Linked DNA regions of Homo sapiens. The protein of the gene in region 2 purifies or fractionates together with the protein of the main gene of each other region. This does not show direct contact. Each region holds a gene or a part of one and is shown on either strand. Other genes may lie near its edges.

Region 1 (3,456 bases), on a different chromosome or scaffold from region 2:
TGTTATACTATTAAGCAGAGAAATTCAGGAGCAAATGAGGTCACGTATATGAAAACACTGCATACAGTGCCTTGTAGACTACAAAGCATCATAAAAATATGTGGTATTATTACAAATGTATATATTACATATATAATTATATAATAATATATATTACATATACATATTATATATATAATTACAAACTGATTCCTAAAAAGAGATTACCCAACATACGGTTTAGTGACTTAGTAATTTTCTATATTCATGCTATCACAAATAGTATTCAGAATACTTTAGAATGCTTATTTTCTTTTTTTTTTTAAAAGAAAATAGCTATATTTGTGATGTAGCTCATGATTCTGCCATTTTCTGCTTTATGGGAACTGAGGATGTTACTATTCCCTCAGATGGTTATGACTCCCAAGGGAAAGTTATTAAGCCAGAAACTGCTGCTATAATTACCAGTACGTAGACTCTGGATTCTAAAAAAGAAAATGTCACAGGGTCTAAAAGGCAGGTTCAGACAAAGAGAAAATTTTATTTTCTTATTCTTGAAATGACTGTACGATTTTTCAATGTTAAAGTTCACTTTCAAGTATGATCAATAACAAGACATCAAATGTAAAAATTATGCTGTATTATCATTTTCTCCATTGCTTCTTAAACCACTGAAAGTAATTTCACAATTCACCACATTTAGGCATCTTCTTTTTCACTTTCTTCATTTTTTACTTCTTTAGGCAACAATGGATCAATCTTCAGTAATAAACCTTCACTTGTTGAACTACGAAGGAAAGCACGTACCACAAAGGGACCTGGAAACAAAAACGAGAATCAACTTTGATTTTTATATCGCAATACCACCTCATGAGCAAATAAAGTAGGTCCTCACTTAATATTGTCACTAGGTTCTTGGAAACTGCAACTTTAAGCAAAACAACTTATAAAGAAACCAATTGTACCGTAGGCTAATTAATAAGAGTTAAGTTTCTCAGGCATATTTCTAGTCACAAAAATATCACCAAGCTTCTAAATAAAGAGCTCAAACACTTCTAATATTAACCATTGAAATAAATTTGAACTATAAATACATTTAAGATTAATAAAAGCAATAATTATTTACCCAACTGTGGGTGAATCAGAGTGACAGGAGTCATAGTGGTGGTGACTTAAATCAAAGACTAAGTGTTTGCAAAGTGAAAACTGTAAGAAGCGCCTTCTGCCACCGTGCAGTTCAAAAACAAACTAACAAATATGGTTGCCTCACTGAGTGCTTTCATACCACATCATTTATTGTCCTGCATTTGTATGATTATCATATACTTTGCCCATTTTTATTTTACAATAGTTTGTATTCATTAATTCATCTTCCAACTCCCTTATTCCAGTCCAGGGTTGTGGGAGGCCAAAGCCTATCCTGGCAGGTCAGAGCATAGGTGGGAATGATCTCCGGATAAGCAGCATCTCATTGCAGGGCACACGTACACAACCCACACACTAACTCACACCGGGATCATGCAGACATACCAATTAACCTAACATGCCACCTTTGGGATGCGGGAGGAAACCGAAGTACCCAGAGAATCCATGCAGACATGAGGAGAACATGCAAATTCCACACAGACAGTGGCTCTGGCCAGGAATCTATTTTTTTCTTATCAATGTTATAATAAAATAACATTGAACAAAAGGATGTTATTCAAGGACCTGCTGTACAAATATACAACAGGAAAACTTATAGAACTCATGTCATATTTTCAGTGAAAAGTACTGTATTACTGAACTAATATTTTGAATTATAAGAAGGGGAAGATAGTTTCATTTCTAGAATAGAAGACAAACTAGTTGTACTCTAGAATATTAGAGATTTATCCTTCAAACTACACACACTCACTAATAATTCATTTCTCTCTTCCAGAAGATGATCACCTAGAATTTATTTTATTGCAAAGGCAACAGTGAAGGGAGCAGGTGGTGATATTTACATTTGATGGAAATGTTATAAATATTTATTTAAAACAGTCAGCACAGATGCTACCTTTGTGTTACCACACAGTTGGTAAAATTCCCTAAAAACTAAAATGCTTTTCATAAGAACAACGTTAAGTGGCTTCATTTAAAATAGCAAAAAGACAGCCGGACACCGTGGCTCACACCTGTAATCCCAGTACTTTGGGAGGCCAAGGTAGGTGGATCACCTGAGGTCAGGAGTTCGAGACCAGCCTGGCCAACATGGTGAAACCCCACCGCTACTAAAAATACAAAAATTAGCTGGCATGGTGGCAGGTGCCTGTAATCCCAGCTACTTGGGAGGCTGAGGCAGAAGAATTGCTTGAACCCGGGAGGCGGAGGTTGCAGTGAGCTGACATCAAACCACTGCACTCCAGCCTGGGTGACAGAGTGAGACTCCGTCTCAAAAACTAAAATAAAATGGCAAAAAGAGAATCACAACATTTAAACATGCTAAGGGGCTTCATATGAAATAGCAAAAAGAGAATAACAACATTTTGAGGATTTACTGTCCATCATCTACTCCTACTATTGTCTCAAGAGGATCCTGTACTGAAATCAAAGTTATCTGTGGACTCTAAGAATCCATACACATCCAATTACTTAGTAGTATGGCCATATTTAGGGCAAGAAAATTAACAAGGGTGGTATTTATTCACCAGTATGGTTAACTCCCAAAGAAGGTAAAAAATAGCTTAAGATTGTGTTTTAATTATAAACTTGGTTATAAAACTAAACCTGACAAATTCTTATCATGGTAAGCCTACAAATGAGTAGTCAATTGAGTATAATGGACCCTTGCTTGGCTTCAAGCAGCCACAAGTGAAATTTGTCTGAGGAAGGAATTTGAACAGCACACAACGCAATGATAAAGAAACTGGATGCCTGTGTTCTAGCCTACTACACAGCTTCCACATCTCAATTGAGTTGAGTGATTCTCTATGAGTCACCTCATTTATAAATGACTCTCATGACATAATAAAATGATCTTCTTTCTGTCCTGTAATAAATAAATAAGATTAAGAAAACTAATTGCTAGTGCCAATGACAAAGTGAATGATCTGGTTTCAAAATATCATTTTAGAAATAATTTTAGTCCCTAACATCATTGTAAGTTTAAAGCAATCAGTTACAGTTTTCTTTCAAACTTTGCTACATCTATTATTAGTAATAATGTGGGAATCTACAAAGGTTTCAGGATGCATTCCTTATTAATGCTAGAGAAATCCTTTGGAGAATTAAATTTTATTTATTTAATCCCTGGAAATATAAAACTTGCATGTTAACTTGATTTTTTATTTAATATTTTACATTTTGCTATTATACTTGCATGTTAATTTGACTTTTTTCTTCATATTTTACATTTTAAAGTTTCACAGGGTCATAGGGAAGTCTACCCTCAGCAAACCACTTACCCAAATTCAGCGGTCTGTGCCTACAAACTTCATTAATAACTGCTTGCAG
Region 2 (3,500 bases):
CGAGACCAGCCTGAACAACATGGCGAAAGCCTGTCTCTACAAAAAAAATACAAAAATTAGCCAGGTGTGGTGGCACATGCCTGTAACCCCAGCTACTCAGGGGGCTGAAGTGGGTGGATTGCTTGAGCCTGGGAGGCAGAGGTTGTAGTGAGCCGAGATCGGTCCACTGCATCCAGCCTGGGTGACAAAACTAGACTCTGTCTCAAAAAATACAAATATAAAAGAGCCAAAACAAAAAATGGGGTTTGTACTTATACATTATATTTTTCCTTTTATGAGGTCGCCTGGTCACAGCATGAACTGAAGAATGTAACATCGGGTGCTCCCATCATGCTTTCTGTCCTGATAATGTTTGCTGTACATCTCTGCTTAGGCACTCACATCTCATAATTATTCCAAAATATAATGTTTTGCTTAAAAAAAATGCTCATTTCACGTAAAAAAATCCCCCAAATATGCTGCAAATGTTACTGTCCATCTGTGCATATTTGCAGGTGTCAAACAACTGGTGAGTGCTGACAATGCATTATTATGTACCTAGATGATTCAGGGATAATTTATTAGTAATATTTCCCCAATTTATGATTATCTAAAGTATGCACTTACAAATGTGCAATACCATTTCAGCCATTAATGGCAAAGTTAGCCAAATAAATGATCATTTATCAAAACCCAGAAACCGACACAGGCACAATCTACTTAACATTTCAAAATTAAGTTACCACTAATAGAAGCATTACAATTTTTCCACTGGATTATAATGGGAAATCATGGTTTATGTAAGTTTTGGCCTATGAAAAAAACATTTTATAATCACTTATAAAACACATTTTGTTTTTTGTTTTTTAGGGACAGGATAGGGTCTTGTTCTGTTGCTCTGGCTGGAGTGCAGTGGCGCAATCACAGCTCGCTGCAACTTCTAACTCCTGGGACCCAATGATCTTCCTGCCTCAGCCTCTTGAGTAGCTAGGACTATAGATGTGCGCTACCACACCTTGCTAATTTTTTTTATTTCACATGTCTTCCTGAAAAAGCCTACTGCTACAGTTAATTTTATGGTACTACATTAAATCATCTTATAAGTTTATAAAACTTCTTTATCAAGGCTTTTGAGAAAAGATCCTATGGCTCACAAGTACTACAGAAGTACAAGCAATGGGGCAATCGGAGCAAGTACAGAAACATTTGTTGTGTACTTAAAAAGCCTTTTCACTATTAAGGCCTACTAATCATCATGATGCCAGTTTTGTTATAAACAGGGAAATACAGGTGATACTGTGATACTGGATACATTATTAGGAATAAATCCAGAAGTGATTTCTGCATATTATAGACACACTCCCTTGAGCTATCTTCACAATCTTATCACACTTAAAATTCTAGGAATTTTAATTTTGTGAAATTCAGCAATTTTAGTTGATAAAACTTAAATGCAAACTCTTAGGACTTGTCATTTGTCATAACTTTATGTAAATACACCTCTTTCTTTTAATAAACACATACTTCAAAATTTTTAACATTTTAATCTATTTAAAATTTATATATTTTTTGGTGCTCAGTATGAGGGAAAGAATCTAGAGTGACTTTCTCCAAATGATCAGGCAACATTATTAATTGGAACAGACAGCCTTCTCTCCACTAATTTAAAATAATACCTTTATCATCTACTAAATTCTTTTAAGATGAATTCTTGCTCTGTTGCCTAGGCTAGTGTGCAGGGCCGCAATCACAGCTTGCTGCCACCTTAACCTCCTGGGCTCAAGCAATCCTCTAGCTTCAGCCTCTCAAGCTGATAGGCGCACACATCACGCCCAACTAATTTTTAATTTTTTTAGAGACAGGGTCCTGGTATGTTGCCCAGGCTAGTCTCAAATCCCTGGCTTCCATCTTGAACTCGCAAAATGTTAGGGTTTCAGGCATGAACCACTGCACCCAGGATAAATTCTTATTTATACTCGGATCTGTTTCTGCCTGCCTATTGCTTTCTATTCATCTCTTTCTTTTTTCCTGCATTGCTACATTTTATTATCATGTCAGTAAACCCATTACTTTTATTTTTCAAATATGTCCAGCCACACTTCCATGTTTATTTTAAAGATAAACTGTTTTACTAAGTTCTCCTACTATTCTATTTGCATTGATTTTTAATTAATTTGCAATAAATTTGTTAACTATGAGGAGTAAAGTCTTCCCAACATCTTTTTTTTTTGGGGGGGGACAGGGTCTTGGTTCTGTCGCCCAGGCTGGAGTGAGGTAGTGCAGTTAGGGCTCACTGCAGCCTCGGCCTCCTGGGCTCAAGTGATCCTCCTGTCTCAGCCTCTTGAGTAGCTAGGACCACAGGTGTCCACCATCATACTCTGCTTATTTTTAAAATTTTTTGGTAGAGATGAAGTTTCACTACGTTGCTCAGGCTGGTCTCAAACTCGTGGGCTCAAGTGATCATCCTGGCTTTGCCTCCCTAAGTGCTGGTACTGTTCTTGTTCTTCTATCTAGCAATAAGATATGTTTTTTCCATTACATGCAACTTTTATGTCCCTGTCTTACATTATTTATCATAGAAGTTGGTCATATTTCTTAGTATGACCAACTTATTTCTTATTATATATTTTGTATACAATTTCTATTTTGCATTACTGTAATCATCTTTTCTCCTCATTACATAATCAATGGATTAGGCTTTAGGACTATTAAATTTTTTTTTTTTTTAAGATGGAGTCTCGCTCTGTCGCCCAAGCTGGAGTGCAGTAGCGTGATCTCGGCTCACTGCAACCTCTGCCTCCCGGGTTCTCCCACCTCAGCCTCCTGAGTAGCTGGGATTACAGGTGCACGCCACCATGCCCGGCTAATTTTTGTATTTTTAGTAGAGATGGGGTTTCACCATGTTGGTTGGCCAGGCTGGTCTCGAACCCCTGACCTCAGGCGATCCGCCTGCCTTGGCCTCCCAAAGTGCTGGGATTACAGGCATGAGCCATCGTGCCCGGCCAGAACTATTGACTTTTGTATATTTAATTTACATTTTGCCTGTGCCTAATTTAAGTTCCTTATTAGTTCTCATTCTTCATGAATAATGCTAATTTCAATATTTATGCTTCTTTTTCATGTGTTCCTGATTTAACTAAAAATTCCAGAATAGGCCGGGCACTGTGGCTCATGCCTATAATCCCAGCACTTTGGGAGGCCAAGGTGGGTGGATCACTTGAGCCCAGGAGTTCCAGACCAGCCTTGGCAACATGGCGAAACCCCGTCCCTACAAAACTAGCTGGTGGTGCTTGCTTGTGATCTCAGCTAATTGGGAGGATGGCCTGAGCTCAGGAGGTAGAGGCTGCAGTGAGCCATGATCACACCACTGCATTCCAGTCTGGGAGACAGAGCAGGACCCTATCTCAAAAAACAAACAAACAATCTTTAGAATGTTTAAAAATTAAGCAAGTAGGCTGGACGCAGTGGCTCACATCTACAATCCCAGCACTTTGGGAGGCCAAGGCAGGTGGATCACTTGA

What was found.
Region 1: the proteins of LSM14A (region 2) and MRPL1 purify together in Homo sapiens (affinity purification with mass spectrometry; one large-scale study listed by BioGRID and IntAct). This does not show direct contact.

What each region holds. Positions count from the first base shown.
Region 1 is NC_000004.12:77,949,830-77,953,285, reverse strand, and holds the end of MRPL1 (large ribosomal subunit protein uL1m precursor), read right to left. Parts: coding exon 3,408-3,456; intron 863-3,407; exon of another isoform or gene 798-862; coding exon 679-797; 3' UTR 501-678; downstream 1-500.
Region 2 is NC_000019.10:34,210,504-34,214,003, reverse strand, and holds part of LSM14A (protein LSM14 homolog A), read right to left. Parts: intron 1-3,500. UniProt on the Homo sapiens protein: Essential for formation of P-bodies, cytoplasmic structures that provide storage sites for translationally inactive mRNAs and protect them from degradation. Acts as a repressor of mRNA translation. May play a role in mitotic spindle assembly.